Regions from separate parts of the Homo sapiens genome. Here region 2 is linked to region 1. Evidence: fine-mapped QTL for protein levels in blood plasma. A gene starts in region 1. The other region holds a variant in brackets. All regions are shown on one strand. Distances are between the middles of the regions.

Region 1 (10,124 bases):
TTTAGAATCAGCTTATCAAATTCCACCAAAACTAAACAGAAAAAAGAAAAATGAAACAAAACAACAATCCTCCTCCCCCAACAAATATTTCATGTTTTATTTGCTTACATCTTCTAACATTTCAATAATGTTTTATACTTTATTAAATATATACTTTTCTATGTAGAGGTCTTACATTCTTGCACATTATATTTATTCCTAAATTTTTTATATTTTATGTAGCTATTGTATATTTGTTATTTGCTCTATGGCATGCTACCATGAATCAATGGATCAACTAGATGGACGTACAGTGTTAGAATTGTGAATTTTTTTTTTTTTTTTTGACAGAGTCTCACTTTGTCACTCAGGCTGGAGTGCAGTGGCACGATCTGGGCTCACAGCAACCTCTGCCTCCCGGGTTCAAGCAATTCTCCTGCATCAGCCTCCCAAGCAGCTGGGATTACAGGCATGCACCACCACACCCAGCTAATTTTTGTATTTTTAGTAGAGACGGGGTTTCCCCATATTGGCCAGGCTGGTCACGAACTCCTGACCTTGTGATCCACCCGCCTCTGCCTCCCAAAGTGCTGGGATTACAGGTGTGAGCCACCACACCCGGCCCACGTGAATGGTTTTAATAAAACATTTAATTAGATATGGTTAAGTTGTCAAAAACAAACATTTCTCCTTGGCTTAAAAATGTTATAACACAGGGTTGGACGCAGTGGCTCATGCCTGTAATTCCAGAACATTGGAAGGCCAAGACAGAAGGACTCCTTGAGCACAGGAGTTCCAGACCAGCCTGAGCAACATAGCAAAACCTCACCTCTACTAAAATAAATAAATAAATACATAAAAGCCAGGCATGATGGCATGTACCTGTAGTCCTAGCTACTCAGGAGGCTGAGGTGCGAGGATTGCTGGACCCCAGGAGATGGAGGCTGCTGTGAGCTTGATCAAGTCACTGCACTCTAGCCTGGGTGACAGAGACCCTGTCTGGAAAAAAAAAGTGATAACACAAAACTTGCACATGAATGTTTATAGCAGCTTTATTCATAATTTTCAAAACTTGAAAGCAACCAAGATGTCCTTCAGTAGGTGAATGGATATTGACATCAGGGGTTTTTCTGGACAAATCATACACCCAGATCACCCTACAGTGAAATTCAAAAAAGTGATAACACAAAATCCATTCAGTAGGTGAATAGATACATCAGTGGTTTTCTGGACAAATCATACACCCAGATCACCCTACAGTGAAATTCAAAGTTAAAAGCACCAGCTATCTACTTGGAGCTTCCTCTCTTTGTACTTTTTAATTTTTACTTTTAATCATGGACAGCAACCAAGAAAATCCAATAATGTAGAAGGAAGGGACCCAAACAACAGACAAAGGAATATGGAGGAAGCAGATGCTGCAGGATTGGATTAACTGTAGTACGTCCCAACAATGAAGTATTATTCAGTGCTAAAAAGAAATGAGCAATCAAGCCATGAAGGGACATGGAGGAACCATAAATGCGTATTACTAAGTGAAGGAAGCCAATCTGAAAAGCTATATACTGTAAGATTCCAACTATGTGACATTCTGGAAAAGGCAAAACTATGGAGACAGTGTAAAAATCTGTGGATGCCAGTGGTTAGCAAGGAGAGAGGAATGAATAGGTAGAGCACAGATAATTTTGAGGGCAGTGAAACTATTCTGTATGATACTATAATGCTGGATACACATCATTATACATTTGTCAAAGCCCATAGAATGTACAGCACCAATATAAAATTCAATACAAATATGTAGGAATTCCTCATTTGGTTAGTATGCAGAAAAGAGTTACCGTAACAGGCCTAAGACTGCGATCTTTAGAAAGGCCTGCTTCCTGAAGGTTGGCCTGTAGGTGGATTTGGGAGTGTTCCTGCTGTTCCCTGAGTCTCTAATGAGCTTCCATGGCAGACAGCCCTTCACACATGTTACAACGTGATGCTTGTGCTTGGCCTCCTCCTGTCTTCTTCCTGTGCACTTTTTCCCTTTGCTCTTTTGCTTCATATTCTTCTGCTGTAATAAATCTTAACTGTGAGTACAACTGAGTCCTATGAGTTCTTTTAGTGCATCACTGAACCTGGAGGTGATCTTAGGGATCCCTAACACAGGTAGATATGTGTTTTCTTCTGTGTCACAGAATACAGTCTGATTCTATGAGTCAGAAGGCTCTTTTCCTTGAAAACTTGATTCAGTGCAACCATTCATGTTAAAAACATAGTTACATTTCAGTATCATGAGGGATTGGTTCCAGGACTCCCAGATACCAAAATCCATGGATGCTCAAGTCCCTTATATAAAATGGCATAATCTATGCACATCCTCCTGTACTTCAAATAATCTCTAGATTAATTATAATAATACGATGTAATGCTATGTTGACAGTGCTCTTGCCGTATTTTTATTTGCATTTTTAAATTGCTGTATTATTTGTTATTTTTAAATACTGTTATCTGACATTGGTTAAAACCATGGATGTGGAACCTCTGGTTATGGAGGTTCAATTGTACTTTTTTTTTTTTTGAGACAGGATCTTGTTTTGTCACCCAGGCTGGAGTGCAGTGGCATGATCATAGTTCACTTCAGCCTCAACCTCCCGGCTTCAAGCAATCCTCTCATCTCAGCCTCCCGAGCAGCTGGGACTACAAGCTTTTACCACCGCACTGGCACACAGGGCTAATTTTTTGCTTTTTATTTTTTGTAGAGACAGGGTCTATGTTCCCCAGGCTGGTCTCAAACTCCTGCCCTCAAGTAATCCTCCTGCCTTGGCCTGCCAAAGTTATGCAATTGCAGGTGTGAGCCACAGTGCCTGGCCTAGCTTTTCATTCTGAAAACGCGTGTTCTTCAGTCCTGGAGCCTTGATAATTACTTATTTCTTTTCTTTTCTTTTTTTTTTTTTTTTTTGGAGACAGAGTCTCACTCTGTTGCTGAGGCTGGAGTGCAGTGGTGTGATCTCTGCAACCTCCACCTCCCAGGTTCAAGCGATTCTCCTGCCTCAGCCTTCCGAGTAGCTGGGATTACAGGTGTCTGCCACCATGCCCAGATAATTTTTGTATTTTTAGTAGAGATGGGGTTTCACAATGTTGGCCAGGCTGGTCTCAAACTCCTGAGCTCAAGTGATCTGCCCACCTCGGCCTCCCACAGTGCCGGGATTACAAGCATGAACCACTGTGCCCAGCCCAAATTACTTATTTCTTCTTATTTGTACTACGCTGCTTCTCAAGCACCTTTAAGAATTATTTATTTCATCCCCTCTGTACTGCGTTTTCCAATTTTCTTATCTTTCAGAGTTTTTGCTCTACATTCCTCAGTGTTATCTTCTACTAATAGTTTTTTCACTTCTTTCTTATTTCTATTAACTTTTAAAAATCCCCTACCCCTTTTATTGCACCCTGTTGTGGCTTCATCTTCTCTTATTTTTCTGGGGCTATTATGAGAATTTTTAAAAGTGTTCTCCCTGCAGCATCTGCTTCCTCCATATTCCTTTGTCTGTTGTTTGGGTCCCTTCTTTCTACATTATTGGATTTTTTTGGTTGCTGTCCATGATTAAAAGTAAAAATTAAAAAGTACAAAGAGAGGAAGCTCCAAGTAGATAGCTGGTGCTTTTAACTTTGAATTTCACTGTAGGGTGATCTGGGTGTATGATTTGTCCAGAAAACCCGATGTCAGTATCTTTGCTCAGCCTCTTAGGTTAATCAGATAGCGAGGGGTTTCAGTTTTCAGTAGGCATAAAGCCACTTATTCTCCGTTTTAGGTGGAATACCCACTCAGCAGAGAATTTATCCCCTTCAGGGAATTCAGCCGGGGTGGGAGCCCGTGGTGGGAAAGAGGGGCAGCTGCCCAGAGACATGAAGCTGGAAAAAGGATCTAGCGATCAGAGTCCTTGAGCAGCCTTTGACTAATCTCCCCCTTTTCCGATTTACCTCTCATACTCATACTTGTGCTCTCCAGCTTCCAACATTTTGTTGCTGTTATCTCTTTGTCCTTGTGTTTAGGTTGTTAAACTTGATTTTTAACAGGAGAGTAGGCAAAATTAGATGCTTGAATTCAAACCACGATCTTAACTAAGACCTGATATCCGTAAGTAAAAATTTTTGGTATTCCAGCTTTCTTTTGAGTAGCAAAAGAAAAACAAAGTCTTTTGGCCACTCCAACCATGTTACTCAGTAGGCCCTTCCAAAGACACCCACTTCTCCATTTTGGGGATCCCCTTGTACCTTCAGACTCCACAAGGAGTACACGACCAGCCACGACAAAACGAGATGCAGACTATTGGGAGGACTATAAACGGTAGGGGTGATACCCATTTGAGTCCACGAACGGCCCTCTCGGCGCCGCAGACACTGGCTGTCCCCCGAGACGCTCCAGCAGCCACTTAACTTCACCCACCTGTAGCGCCCGGGGACGCTCGAAGCCCGACCTCCCACGCCCGCCCCGGAGCCCCGCCCCTCCCGCCCCTCCCCGCCCTTCCCGACTCTCCCCGCCCCTTCCTGCCCCGACGCGCAGCAGGCCCCGCCCACCCAGGCGGTAGGAACCCACTCCGGCCCGCTAGACCTGCTGCTATGTCCCGGCCGCAGCTTCGACGCTGGCGCCTCGTCTCTAGCCCGCCGAGCGGCGTCCCGGGTCTAGCGCTGCTGGCGCTGCTGGCGCTGCTGGCGCTGCGGCTCGCGGCCGGGACCGACTGCCCATGCCCGGAGCCTGAGCTCTGCCGCCCGATTCGCCACCATCCAGATTTCGAGGTCAGCGCCTTCCTCTGCTCCTCTAGGTCTGGGCTTCAGGGCACGAAGAGAAGTTAGGGTAGAACGGAGCCCTAAGGAGAGGTGCCGTGGGCGCCGAAACCAGCTTTGACCACTCGATGAGGGCCTTCCTGTTTACGGATCCTTCAATTTATAGATGAGGAAGCTCGGGCTCAGAGAAGTTGAGTAACTCCTCAGGCCTCACAGCCTGTAAGTGCCTGCGTAGGCAGGCGAGAGTTCAAACCAGATCTGCCTCCTAAGGCAAGCTCCTTTCATTCCCCTGCTGTGCCTCTGCGGAAGCACTCTGGGTGTAAAAAGCAAACAAGGTAGGATAATCCATTTATGTTTCCAAGGAACGAGGATTTCGTTTGAAAGAATCTCAGCACTCCAACAGTACATTAGAATGCAGAGTATTTTGCTTACCTTTAGTTTTCTATACCTGCTAGCCCTTTCCTTTAAAGTACCTCAAAACCACCCATGAAGAGTGGTAAAAAAAATAGCTTTCAGTACATTTTCCTTCTATCTACATAACAATTTGTAAGGCTTCTGGCAACTTTAATCAAACACCTTCTGGAGCAATATTAAAACCACCTGACTGCCCACTTCGATGACTGAAAGCAGGAATTGGATGACATCAGGAAGGTCCAAAGGCTTAATTCAAAGAACGATTCTTTTGTAGAAATAGGCATGATTCCTAGTTCTTAATCTAGTACATTAATCTGAGGCAGAACACTTAGATGCCAGTAAAAAAGTATATATACATGACTTAGGAGAAGAAATAAAAATGGTGAAAGTGTTTATGGAGAACCTGCCTAGTGTGGAAACCTAACATCTTATTAAAAGAAAGACTTCAGACAAAGTAGGATAACCTTTTTTATTTGAGCAAAGAACAACTTATGAATCGGCAGTACTTAAACCAGAAGGGGTTCAGAGAGGTCTGCTTTAGTAGCATGGGCTTTTATAGGCCGAACAGGGAAGCAAAGGAAAATAATTACTTGGTTGGCTATGACTGTTTGCCTTATTTAGCTATGACTTGGTGGAAAATTACTAGTTAGAGGTTAGTTGGCAGTTTCTGATAGGTTAAGCTTAAGTTTCCTTTCACTGTTGACCTTGGGCTGGAGTTTGCTTAAGCAGGAAATCCAAGGCAGTTGGAGCTGTTTCAGCATAATGGCCTCCCAATTAAAATGTTTTATACAATCTGAGGCCCAGCGCGGTGGTAGAGGCAGTGGGGACAGTAGCTGTAAAAGTTCAACCAGACATTTCTTAATTTTCTCAATCTCTTTTTGAGATTGAGAAGCACTTTGTGAGGCCAAGGTGGGTGGATCACTTGAGGTCAGGAATTCGAGAACAGCCTGGCCAACATGGTGAAACCCCGTCTCTACTAAAAATACAAAAATTAGCTGGGCGTGGTGGCGGGCACATGTAATCCGAACTACTTGGGAGGCTGAGGCAGGAGAACCGCTTGAACCTGGGAGGCGGAGCGGGAGGCGGAAGGTTGCAGTTAGCCAAGATCACGCCACTGCACTCCAGCCTGGGCGACAGAGCAAGACTATGTCTCAAAAAAGAGAAAAAAAAAAAACCTGAAAGATTTACTGTAGTACCCAATACTTAGTGGGTTAGGCAATATCTGTGGGCACTTTGAAAACCAACTATTCAAAGAAGCAAAATTATGCTTATTTGTATCTTCATGGTAAATGGTCTTTTTCTCTACTGGCGTTTTCTATGTTTTTCAAACACAAAAACTAGACTACATGGCATTTTCCCCTTATATTTTCAATTAGTTCACCCAGCTTTTTTTTTTTTTAAGGATATCTGTTATATCACAGGCTCTTAGTATTTTTTAAACAAATAGAATCTTAATTATCAGAACTAAAATAGAAGTTTTGATAGAAATATGAGTCAGAAAACAATGGGCCACTTAATTTCACATTATGAATTTTTATTATTTCAGTAGGCAATTGCTTAGCAGAAAAAATGAGTTATGCATAATTAATTCTGAAAAGTTAAAAAAAATTAAAAAAAATTAAGAAATGCCTGGTTTAACTTTTACAGCTGCTATCCCCACTGTCTCTCCCTCATTCATTCCCCTCACAAGGACCCAGTGATCTCTTTTGTAATGCATATCCCCTGAATTAAAACTCTAATTGATTCCCACTGATCCCAAGATAAAATACAACATCTTCAGTGGTCTTGGAAGTCCTACTTAATCTTTCCACTACCGACTTTAAAGGTTTTATCCAGTTCCACATACTTGCAGGATTTCTGTGCTCTACCTACATTGACCTTTTTCAGTTCCAGAATCTCAGAATTCTCCTGAGGTGTAGCGACCTTTGGGCTTTCCCTTCCCTCAGTTGAGAATGCAATCTTTTGTCCATAGGTATATCTCTTCCATCATTCTGCTGATTTCAGCCCACTCCGAAAGTGTGTAGTCCTCAGAAAAGTTTTCGTGCACCATCTGGCTAGCAGGTCCCCTTTATATGCTGGCGTGGCCCCCTGTAACCCCTACAGTCCTTAATACCATTGTAATTAAGTAGTTAACTCCTTACTGGACCTGGTCTCTCTCATTAATCTTTATCTCCTTAGAGCCTAGCAAAATACTCTCCTTGTACCTTATTGGAAATTCAATAAATATTTGCCAAATCAATGAATTAATGCCTTGGAATAAAATAAAAATAATCAGTGAGGCTTCTGTGCTTCTTGAATTAACTGTGGGAAGAAAATATCAGAGAAACACAACATCAGGTGCCTTAGAATTTGACCTAGGTACTATTCTAAGAAGCTAGCTTCACCAAACAAACAAAAAACAGTAAATGTATTTATGGCTCCATCTGCAGTAGCCAGAAACTTGAGTATTATCAGACTTCTCTCCTTTGATTACTCATTCGATTAGTCACAAAGTCCTGTCAATTTTGCCTCCTTAGGATCTTCCAGATCTGTTCACTTAACGCCACTGCTCCACAATTTTAGTTGAGGTCACCATCATCTCTTACTTGGATTCCTCCAACAGTTTCTGTATTCTGCCTCCAGTTTTGGTGTCTCTTTAATCCTTTTCCCACTGCAGCTGAAAATATTTTTCTAAAATGCATACCTTCCCCTTTTAAAAATGCTTTTATTCTCTCCCTTTACCTCAGGATAAACAAGGTAGTACTAACTTCTCAACAGAGCTTATGAGGCCTTTCATGATTTAATCCATGCCTACTACTCTCTGGTCCTTCACTAATGCTCTCTCCCCAAATTCTAGACGTCGGCCATACTAAATATTTAGTTACGCAACCACCATGTTGTCTCTGCCTCCAGGCCTTGGCACTTGCCACTCTTCCTTCCTGGCCCATCCTTCCCCTCTTTCCCAGCCTGGCTAATTACCCCTGCCACCAATTATCTTGGGACCCCTATGTCTTATGCACTTGTACTCTCACTGCCACCATAGTGTTTGGTGTATGGTGATGTTTGATGAACGGTATTTTGGACGGTCAGCATAATATTCTTGGTTTAAATGATGGTGCTCATCTTTGTTCTGGCAGGTCTTTGTGTTTGATGTTGGACAGAAAACTTGGAAATCTTATGATTGGTCACAGATTACAACTGTGGCAACATTTGGAAAATATGACTCAGAACTTATGTGCTACGCTCATTCAAAAGGAGCCAGAGTAGTACTTAAAGGTATGTTGTTTCCAGATCTATGTGTGCAGCAATTGGGAAATTTATCTGTATCACTTGCTATAGTCCCGACTTTCCAAAAAAGTCCTTTTATGTTTATCTGTTTTTGTTAGGATCCTATAATTAATCTTAGATACTGTGTAATTCATTTCACAAACACAGATCTTTTTAAAAGAATTAAACCACTGTATGGTTTTGAGCAAAATGTTAACTGCCAAATTAGCCTTATGACCTTTACTTAATCATAGTCCACAATTTCTGTTTCTAACTTCAGAACAATTTTACTAATGATTTATAATGGTTATTTTGGAGATTCATGAGTAATGGCTTTCTGTTACTTTGGTATATTCTTTCTCCATTGGAAAACTTCAGTTAAGGGCTTAGTCTTCCAAAATAATGAAATGTTTTTGCATACATGTTCAAAAGATATATACTTCTTCCACAGGAGATGTATCCTTAAAGGATATCATTGATCCTGCTTTCAGAGCATCCTGGATAGCTCAAAAACTTAATTTGGCCAAAACACAATATATGGATGGAATTAATATAGATATAGAGCAAGAAGTTAATTGTTTATCACCTGAATATGATGCATTAACTGCTTTAGTCAAAGAAACTACAGACTCTTTCCATCGTGAAATTGAGGGATCACAGGTAAAAACTCATTTATTTTTTGGAAACCTCATATTTTCCATATCAGAATATACTCATGAGGGTATAACTAATATAATCTTTGTTTTATAGTAATGCAATGGGAAAGAGTTTCAGCACTTATTTCCTAAAAAATTTTTCTGGAGCCTTTGGTGTTCTTATTTAAGGAATTTTAAAGCCCTAAATCTATTCTCTATTCACAGCAAAATACAACACTGGGATTACCCCCACTACTTGCCTTGTAGCACAGTTAGAAGTGTTAGGCAATGGGAGAACAAAAATCAAGGGGGGCGCCTAACCAGCTTTTACCAATGCAGGACAGAAACAACCCAGGAGTAGAGGTAGTTCTGGGGAAGTGTATCACTTGCTCTACAGTCTCTGAATTACTTGCACCCAAGGCCCAGTAAAGCTTAAAGGACTAACTACACAGAACTGTGACAGCTATAACAATAGGCAGTGTGCTTCCCCACTGCCATAATGAACATGATTAGAGCAGAAGGTAACAACACAAGCTATCTTGCCAGACAACAGATGGGTAACAGAGGATAATGTGAACCCAGATCAGTGATCCTCAAACTTGGCCACATATCAAGATAACCATAGGTCTTAAGGAAAAGTAAGCATGTGTTTACTTTTCCACACACATGCACACTGTGAACTCACTCCCAGAAATGATTTTTCAAAAGGTTTTGGGTAATCCCAGAGCCCCCAATTTTAAAAAAGTTTCATTGGTGATTATAGTTAAGAAGTAATAGGCTAGACAATGAGTTTTTTTGAAGACGGGGTGCAGCTCCTTGATATCTAACAGAATGCTTAAAAATGTATTCCAGTATAGAGCATTATGAGTATTATAAACCAGTGATTCCTAAACCTGTCTCAGAATTACCTGAGAGTGCTTGTTTAAAATATCCTGAGTGTATTAGTTTGTTCTCACATTGCTATAAAGAAATACCTGAGACTGGGTAATTTATAAAGACAATAGGTTTAATTGGCTCACGGTTCTGCAGGCTATACAGGAAGCATAATGCTGACATCTGCTTGGCTTTTGGGAGGCCTCAGGA
Region 2 (10,124 bases), 18 kb after region 1:
GGATTTTTGGAATGGTAAATGAACACTGGCTTCAACTTAAAGTTACCACCCTCATTAGTCCCTAACAAGAGAATCAGCCTGTACTTTGAGCTTTAAAGCCAGGTATTGACTTCTCCTGTCTAGCTAGCAAAGTCTTAAATGGCATCATCTTCTTCCAATATAAGATTTATTTGAAGAAAGGGGTCTCTGCCTTTTAAAATGTGTTTGATCATAATTTTACCCGACATGGGAGGTTTCAGAATGAAAACCCAAAGATACAGGAAAAACTGTCCATTTTTGTGCTTAGGTTCAACGAAGTATGGACAGCTATGTAGAACTGTGATCAGAATAAAGGGCATGAGCTAATGCAAACAGACTGAGTGGGAAAACTCAGCAAGGACTGTCTGTTCAGATTTTTCTTGGCCTCTCTGTGAAGGATTTCTTCTCATGGGTATGGGGTAGGACCTCTCTGGAATGAGGGTCTTAATTTCTTTATGGCCAGCTATTACACAGAAAGGTGGTGGTGGGAAAGGTTAGAGTAACATTTTTAGACTTTATGGCTGGTTTTGGGGAAAAGAGGCTCTAGTTTCTATGACCCATTTTAGGGAAGAGGGATTCTAGTTTCTCTTTCTTTCTTTCTTTCCTTTCTTTCTTTCTTTCTTTCTTTCTTTCTTTCTTTTTTTTTTTTTTTTTGAGACAGAGTCTTGCTCTGTCGCCCAGGCTGTAGTGCAGTGGCGCCCTCTGGGTTCACTGCACCCTCTGCCTCCTGGGTTCAAGCAATTCTACTCCTCAGCTTCCCCCATAGGTGGGATTACAGGTGCCCGCCACTATGCCGGGCTAATTTTTATATTTTTAGTAGAGATGGGGTTTCACTATGTAGGCCAGTCTGGTCTCAAACTCCTGACCTCAAGTGATCCGCCTACCTTGGCCTCCCAAAGGCCTGGGATTACACGCATGGGCCACTGCACCTGGCCAACACATTGTTTAAGCTCTTAGAATTCAGGAAACATTTTGGTGAGCCTTGAAGGCCATTTAATGTCACTTCAGAAAACAATCTAATTATAACTATTTTCTTCCTCTTTTTTATTCATTGCAAAATTCCCATTGTAAGGTTATTAGTCTAATTTCAATATCGTTATTAAGTCTTTTTTTTCTGAGATGGAGTATCGCTCCGTCACCCAGGCTGGAGTGCAGTGGCACAATCTCAGTTCACTGCAACCTCTGCCTCCTAGGTGTAAGTGAGTCTCGTGCCTTAGCCTCCCAAATATCTGGGGTTATAGGGATGCCCTACCATGCCCGGCTAATTTTTTGTATTTTTAGTAGAGATGTGGTTTCACCATGTTGGCCAGGCTGGTTTGAAACTCCTGACTTCAAGTGATCCTCCCATCTCGGCCTTCCAAAGTGTTGGCATTACAGGCGTGAGCTACCGCGCCTAGCCAAATATTGTTATTAAGTCTTATATGGGCAGTTCATGGTGCCCACAAACAATTACAATAGTAGCATCAAAGACCACTGATTGCAGATCATCATAACAGATATAATAATAATAATGAAAAAGTTTGGAATATTTTAAGAATTGCCAAAATGTGACACAGACACAAAATGAGCACTTGCTGTTGGAAAAATGGCACCAGTAGACTTGTTCAATAGAGTTGCCATAAACCTTCAATTTGCAAAAAATTTAATGTCTGCAAAGCACAATAAAGCAAAGTACAATAAAATGAGGTATGCCTGTAATTTAAAAATATGTAACATAGAATCTTAGGACAGTATATACTACCATATACTGTTTCTTTGTAATCCTGACCTTAGTAATCTGTGGCTTGTTTTTTCCTTAATGAATGTGAAAATGCAGGAACACATTCTTCTTTTTTTTTAGACGAGGTTTTGCTCTGTCACCCAGGATGGAGTGCAGTGGCACAATCATGGCTCACTGCAGCCTTGACCTCTTGGGCTCAAGCAATCCTCCTGCCTCAGCCTACCAAGTAGCTAGGACCATAGGCGTGTGCCATCATGCCAGGCTGATTTTTTTACTTTTTGTAGAGACGGGGTCTTTCTATATTGCCCAGGCTGGTCTTGAACTCCTGGCCTCAAGTGATTCTCCCACCTTGGCCTCCCAAAATGCTGGGATTACAGGTGTGAGCCACTGCACTTGGCCTCTTTTTTTTTTTTAATTAAAAAAAAGTGGCCGGGCGCGGTGGCTCACGCCTGTAATCCCAGCACTTTGGGAGGCTGAGGCGGGCGGATCACGAGGTCAGGAGATCGAGACCATCCCGGCTAAAACGGTGAAACCCCGTCTCTACTAAAAATACAAAAAAAATTAGCCGGGCGTAGTGGCGGGCGCCTGTAGTCCCAGCTACTTGGGAGGCTGAGGCAGGAGAATGGCGTGAACCCGGGAGGCGGAGCTTGCAGTGAGCCGAGATCCCGCCACTGCACTCCAGCCTGGGCGACAGAGCGAGACTCCGTCTCAAAAAAAAAAAAAAGTTTAATGGCAGGCAAAAATTATCTGTATTTATGGTGTAGAAGATGATGTTTTGATATATCTATACATTGTGAAATGGCTAAATCAAGTTATTTAACATATGTATTACCTCACATACCATTTTTTAAATGGTAAGAACACTTAAAATCCATTCTCTTAGGAATTTTCAACATAATACATTGTTATTAACTATAGTTACCACGGGATACAGTAGATTTCTTGTATTTATTGTTCCTAATTGAAAATTTGTGTCTTGAAATATCTATTCTTCCCACCCCCAGCCTCTGGTAACCACCTTTTTACTCTGTTTCTATGAAGAAACACATTCTTTAGGTCTCAGAATTCAGGAAACATTTTGGTGCGCATTGAAGGCCATTTAATGCCACTTTAGAAAAAAATCTAGTTATAACTGTTTCCTTCCTCTTTTTTTTTTTTTTGAGATGGAGTCTCACTATGTCGCCCACGCTGGTGTGCAGTGGCGCGATCTTGGCTCACTGCAAGCTCCGCCTCCCGGGTTCACGCCATTCTCCTGCCTTAGCCTCCCAAGTAGCTGGGACTACAGGTGCCCGCCACCAAGCCTGGCTAATTTTTTTGTATTTTTTTAATAGAGACGGGGTTTCACTGTGTTAGCCAGGATGGTCTCGATCTCCTGACCTCATGATCTGCCCATCTCGGCCTCCCAAAGGGCTGGGATTATAGGTGTGAGCCACCGCGCCCAGCCTCCTTCTTTTTTTTTTTTTCTTTTTTTTTTTTTTTTTTTTGAGATGGAGTTTTGTTCTTTTCGCCCAGGCTGGAGTGCAGTGGCACGATCTCGGCTGACTGCGCCCTCCGCCTCCCAGGTTCAAGCAATTCTCCTGCCTCAGCGTCCTGAGTAGCTGGGATTACAGGCATGCATCACCACACCCAGCTAATTTTTGTATTTGTAGTAGAGGCAGGGTTTCACCATGTTGGCCAGGCTGGTCTTGAACTCCTGACCTCAGGTGATTCACCCATCTTGGCCTCCCAAAATGCTGGGATTACAGGCGTAAGCCATCGCGCCTGGCCCCCTCTTTTTTATTAATTGCAAAATTCTGTAGCAACATGAATCAAGTTTCTGTCTTATTTGAAGAGAATCACTCTATTGGGCTGTTTCAGCAATAGCAGCTCATCTTGGACTCAATATTCTGGAAAGCAAATATGCCTTAACCATGCATAAATTAGTCTTACATGTGCTTAGTTTTTGCCCTTTGTTCCTTTACAATTTTGAGACATTTGAATTTCTTAATAATATCAAAAAGGCTCAAAGTACTAGCTAGAATGATGGCAAAATTCAAAGGTATATGTCTTTGGGTTTGCCCCTGAATCTTCAATAATCTGTCATATTTAAGTACAAGTTCTACAAGTTGCCTTTTAATAATGAATCACAACTATTACTAGGGCATGCATGGCTTTGTCTAGTTCTAAAAATGTTAAAGAATGGAATATAAGATACAGACTGAGATATGCTTGATTACAATTAGTCTACCATATTTAAATATGCCGCAGTGTATTCATTTACCAGGTGAATTATTTTCCTTCAAAGTGGTCTTTTTTTTTTTTTTTTTTGAGACGGAGTCTTGCTCTGTCTCCAGGCTGGAGTGCAGTGGCGTGATCTCAGCTTACTGCAACCTCCGTCTCCTGGGTTCAAGCAATTCTCCTGCCTCAGCCTCGAGAGTAGCTGGGACTACAGGCATGCACCACCAAGCCCAGCTAATTTTTTTGTATTTTAGTAAAGATGGGGTTTCACCATGTTGGCTAGGATGGTCTCGATCTCTCGACCTCATGATCTGCCTGCCTCGGCCTCCCAAAGTGCTGGTATTACAGGCCTGAGACACCGTGCCCGGCCCCAAAGTGGTCATCTTAAGAGACTATTCTAATTCCAGGAGTGCTGCTGTAAATATTACTGGCATTAATTCAGAAATGCCTTTAAGGAGTTTCCTAGATGTATATAAAAATAAGTAAATTATTTTTAGTCACAGGTCTTTCTATTTTTTATCTCCTATCTTTTTCACCTTCCTTTGCACTTTGTCCTAGATCTGCTCCTTTCCCTTTTCCTTTGTCTCTTATCCAATAGCTCATGTGCTGCCTGAGAGAGACTGTGTTAGTACTAGATAGAGGTAGTTGATTCTGGGCAGAAGGACTTTTTAGGGTGGAAGGTGAACATAAGACCAGAATCTAATTTATGGCTCATAATCAGGTGTATGTTAAGTCACCAATAAAGTGCAGACCTAACAGACTCTGAGAATGTATCTGTAAGACCTAGAAAAGGATGTACTTTTCTCCTCCATTGCCATTACCTTTTGACTTGGCTGATTCATCATAAACAAAATCTTCTGTAGACCTCCTAGCCAGGCACACTTCTAGCAACTACAGAGAATACAAAAAAGCACATAAGCTGGTTTTAGAGGACCAGAGCATTGATTCCCCTTAACTTTGGTTGCATACCAGCATTATCTAATGAAACATTAAAACACAAAACAAATATATGCCCTAGCATTAACCCTGGAGAATTCTGATTCAATAGGTTTCATGTGGTGTGGGACCCAGGAATCTGTATTTTAAAAGCTCCGCAAGTGATTCAGATGTACGCCTTGGCTAATAATCACTGGCTAAGGGCAAGGAAAGAATCTTAGGACATGAAAAGGAGCTCAAGTAGAATCTATTAGGAGGCTCGTTTCTGTAATCTTTGCCATTGTTAAAAGTGCCATAAGCAATAATACCTAGAAAGTACAGATGTTCCTTGATTTATGATTGTATTGTGTCCTAATAAACCCATAAACATATGATAAGTTGAAAATGAACGAAATACCCTGATAAATCCATCGTAAAGTCTAAAAATTGTAAGTTGAACCATTGTAAGTCAGGGACCATTTGTATCAAATATAGAACCATGGAATTATAGAATAGGAAAGTGTTATGCCCTAAAATTTTTATTTCATTGTATCCTTTTTGAATAATTGGATTTAGGAAACTTTTTTCCCTCTTACTGTACTGTATACTTCTTTTATTTTTCCCTTTCCTGTGGTGCTGAATTGTACTAAATACTTTAAAATCTCCATTTTAATTTATTTATATAGGATCCTGCTGGCCACTTTCATCAAGTATGGTATGATAACCCTCAGAGTATTTCTTTAAAGGCAACATATATACAAAACTATCGCTTACGGGGCATTGGCATGTGGAATGCAAACTGTCTTGACTACTCTGGAGATGCTGTAGCCAAACAGCAAACTGAAGAAATGTGGGAAGTCTTAAAGCCAAAGCTGTTACAGAGATGAACATCTTTTGTCAAACCATTAAGAGTTAGAAAGATGATCTGTATCAACAGATCTAGTTTCTTGCATTTTTATTATGTTGCTATATACTTTTGTTATCCGTATACTAAAAAAAAAGAATAAATAAATGTTTTGATTGTTTGAATTTGAAAAATACACACGAATGTCCTCAGTATCCAGGAACATAAAGGCAAGAAGCAAGTCAACTTACCTATTAAATATTCCTCTATTAGATGTTTCAACACTATAATTTAATTGGGAAAAATTGCTTTCAGAATTTTATTATGCCATATTTCCCTTCATTATAGTAAAATATATGCTCACGAATCAATGCTGATTTTTAAAATATGTATAATCTGAAGTGGAAATTGTTTGCTTAGAGTTTTTAAAAACCTAGTCTTTGAAAAGCAGTTTGTGCTATACTTTTCCCCCAACCCTCCAATAAATCTTAAATTTAAAACCTACAATGTAGTGTCTCCCCTTTAGGTTCATCAAACTGATGAAAATAATTTTTCTGCTTCCTGACTCCATATAGTATTTATGTTCTCTGAGGTACTTGAACTAAATCTTTGGACAGTGAGTGAGAATTAAAAAGAATCCAGAAGATTAAATGTATTCACAAAATAGAAGAATGTAACAGTAATATTTTGAATTGGTAAGTTAGAACTACCTAATATTTTCCAACTACATTATTTTTATGAGGCTCATTTGTAAAATTTTTAATAATAGGAATAACTTGCAGTTGAACTTGATTCTGTTCACTGTCACACTTCTAATTATTCATTTCTTCATTTATGGACATATATAATTTATTTCTTGGCTAGCTTGCTTACATGGTTAAATTTTTCTTTCTACATCTGCAATGTATCTTTTTTATTTTTATTTTTTGTAGAGACAGGGTCTCGCTATGTTGTCCAGATGGGTCTCCAACTCCTGGGCTCAAGCACTCCTCCTGCCTTGGCTTCCTAAAGAGCTGGGATTACAGGCATGAGCTGCATTGTGCTTTTAATGATCTAAAGACACTGATTAGCTTCTCAACTAGTTCTCTTTCTAAAAGATCAATTTTATACAAATAAGTTTTCTAAATGTAATAAAGTCTGTTTTCTTTCTCCAGGGAATTAAGAACAACATTGTGCTGCCCTTATTAGTTCCTAATTACAGATTAAAAATCTGTATCTTTGAACTCTAGATTTACATAAATCCTGGCTTCCCTGCACATTTTGCCCCTGTAAATTGGAATACATGATGATTGAACCATCTGTTATGAGAATATTACATTTCCTATTTACACAATTGTTTGTGACAGAGTAA[AAAC/C]CATTTTCATAGTATATGTTGGATCACTGTTGTCTTCATATTTCTAAAATAAATGAATTAAAAAATTTAAATTCTTAGATGCTTATCTCTATCATAGCTCAGAATGCAACTTCAATACCCCCATTCTTTTATATTTCCAGATTTCTTTTAATTAAGATATAATGAACAAATTAAGTTAAATGAAGTCTGTATTTTCATGCAAATATATTAGTATTCATTAATATACATTTATTCTTTGCAAATAGATTTTAGTTATATTAGCTCTTAAATTGTTAAATAAATTATTATTGAATTTTATTATTAAATTATTAAAATGAAAATTATAAAATTAGCACTGTAAAATAATATGTAAAGGACTTGGAATGTTAAAAATAACCATTCATCATTTTGCTTTATATTACATCTAATATTTCCTGAAACATTTTGTAATACCCACATGGAAAGTGGAGAAAGAGAAACCTTGTGCTTTTTATAAAACATTGCCAAGGAGAATAATGGTTAAACAAATCTGTTCAAATACATATTTAAATTTTTTTACAAATAAAAGTTTTAAATTAACATACCTAATTGAGATTGTAGAGATGTATTATTTTTTTTTTCTGTGCCAGTTCAGTTTTCAATGTTCGTAAATCTGAAACTGCTTGTTTTCTCATCTATAAAAAGAATTACTTTTCAAAAATGAACTTCATCATACCCTTCTAAAAGTACATCATAGTTGTCATGTAAACAGGGTTTTTGTAACCGCTTTAACTGTCTTCTCTCATTTGGCTTCAGTGCTTTCAACTCCCACTGGATTACTACAGTAAATGTGTAGATTATGAATGCTGTTTAATAAGCATGCTTATCTACTGGTGAGATATGCTATAAGGTAACCTTGTTTATGAGTAGATAGGGACAATACAATTGAACTGTTCTAAAAACTAGAGTGAGAAAGAATTTTATGTTTTGCTTAAACTTCAAAACCTGTTGTTCTCAATGTGTAAAGAAAATAGTGAAAACAACAAGAAAACAAAATACAAAAAAAACCCTTAATTCCTAGCCCTTAGGAACGGAATAGATATTTCAGAAATATAGTGTTTACTCTGTGGCAAGCACTCTTCTAAGTGTATTAGTCTCTTATTTTTTTTTCAAAAATTTTACAGAATCAGATACTAGTATTTATCCCCATTTTACAGTTGAAATGGAGACCTTTAGAGGCTAAGTAACTTGCTCAAGATAAAAAACTAGTAAGTGAAGTGGGTACAGCCAGGATTCAAATTCAAACCACCTGGTACCAGAGCCCTTACTATTCCAAGTGTTGTCTGTGGACAGCAGCATTAGCATCAGTTGGGAGCTTGTTAGGTAGGAAGAATCTCAGGCTGCACCCAGACCTACTGAGTCAGATCCTGCATTTTTAAACAGGATCCTCAGATGATATATTAAACTTTGAGAAGCACTACTTATGCTATACTATCTTGAATAAATATGGTTGCAAGAGACTCAGGCTGGGTTTTTTTTGTCCCTTAGTTCTGAATCTTATAGGTAGTGCTGTTTTGGGGAGATCATTCAGAAATCAATAAAACTTCTTAAATAATGTCTGTTATGTGTCAATCAGGCACTATGGTTAAATACAGGATTTTTTCCCCCCAGCCTATAAGCTGAAAACTTTGTTCTCTTTTTTTCCTCTTATTCCACTTGTCCTTACTGTTTTTGTATGAACAATTCTAATTTGAGTTCAAACCATGAGTGACATTTGTAATGTTAAAATATACAAAGATTACAAGTAATGTGCATGCTTTCCAGAAGAAAACAGCATGAGGGGAGTCATAATCCAAGCCTCTGGGGGCATTTTTATTACTCCTTCCTACCTACCCAATTATTAAGTGTACAAGTTTACATATTGGCTTTATCTCCATATATTGAATAGACAGTTTTCCTTCATTGAACAAATTATTTTTTGAGTGCATATTTAACTGATATTTTGTTAAAAATTATCCTCTGCTCTTTTCCTTTTCTATTTTAAGTTTTAAGCTTCTCAGTGCCAAACCAGGGCTTATTTAGCCTCGAGAATGCTGCTTGTAAAAAGAATCTAGAACTGCACTGTCCAGTATAGTAGAAGCCAGTTGCCATATGTAACTACTAAACTTAAATTAACTAAAATTAAATAAAATTTAAAATTCAGTTCCTCAGTCACACAAACTACATTTCAAGTGCTCAATATCAATAGGTGGCTAGTGGGTACCAATCTGACAGTGCAGGCATAGAACATTTCTATCATCACATAAGTTCTGTTGGACAGTGCTAATTCTATTTTTTTATTTTTAAATTTTATTTATTTTTATTTTTATCTGAAACCGAGGACAGTACTGATTTTCTTTTTTCTTTTTAAAATTTTTTTAAAAAGAGCTAATTCTAGAATGCAGTCATTATTCTGTGTCATAAAGCTGTTTCTGATAAAGAAATGAGAGCATTCATATAATTATCGTTCTCATTTTCCTGCCTTGCTGTGGGTACTTGTATGAAAATGTATAATCTTCTGTTTTCTGTTCAACAAAAAAGCTTTTTAATACATATGTACTTCACAGATAATTTCTATGATGTAATTAGTTGTACACAATTCTCACCAAATAGAGCATGCCCAGAAGCCTCTACTAAGCATCTGCTATACAAAAGGTCCCATGGGAGAAACAAAGTTAACTAAGGCATAGTCTCTGCCAGGAAGGAAACTTAACATCTAGTAGAAGACACATTATTCATATTTAAATAATAGAATACATATGAAAATAACCAGAAAAAATGAAACGATTACCCATAAAAAATTAAATGTCAGTTCAGAGGAGAGCTCAGTGGTTTATCAGACTTAATAATTCTAATACAGGAAAACTACTTAAAATTTTTTTTGAGAATATATTGACTCACAGGTTCCTTTTCCTTTAATTCTTCCTAGTAAAATTTTACTAAATTTTACTTTGGCTTTATTATATCATGTATCTTTTCACAGGTTTAGTTTTTCTTCCTGCATTTTTTTTTTCACCTATGCTCTTTACTGTTAAGGTAACAATTTTAATACAGTCAAT

Evidence for each region. PIP is the posterior inclusion probability: the model's chance that the variant is causal. The UK Biobank Pharma Proteomics Project read protein levels with antibody pairs (Olink). The fine-mapping took linkage between variants from a reference panel, not from the people measured, so its PIPs are less certain.
Region 2: its variant is fine-mapped to the plasma level of the CTBS protein (UK Biobank, PIP above 0.99).

What each region holds. Positions count from the first base shown.
Region 1 is chr1:84,568,873-84,578,996 of GRCh38, reverse strand. It overlaps CTBS (chitobiase), which reads left to right and starts at 4,557. Exons shown (of 7, transcript NM_004388.3): 1 at 4,557-4,758; 2 at 8,277-8,415; 3 at 8,858-9,066. The coding sequence starts at 4,582. LOC105378819 (a long non-coding RNA gene) reads right to left here and starts at 981. Exons shown (of 2, transcript XR_947544.4): 1 at 862-981. RefSeq lists silencers at 452-651, 4,425-4,544 and enhancers at 4,705-4,994, 5,105-5,204, 5,918-5,967.
Region 2 is chr1:84,550,632-84,560,755 of GRCh38, reverse strand. SPATA1 (spermatogenesis associated 1) reads right to left here. Exons shown (of 14, transcript NM_001397487.1): 13 at 4,777-4,846. CTBS (chitobiase) reads left to right here. Exons shown (of 7, transcript NM_004388.3): 7 at 5,557-10,124. The coding sequence ends at 5,757. Among named protein-coding and RNA genes, the nearest start is that of CTBS, 19 kb to the left of the region's middle. The variant AAAC/C (reference allele first, on the strand shown) is at 7,066.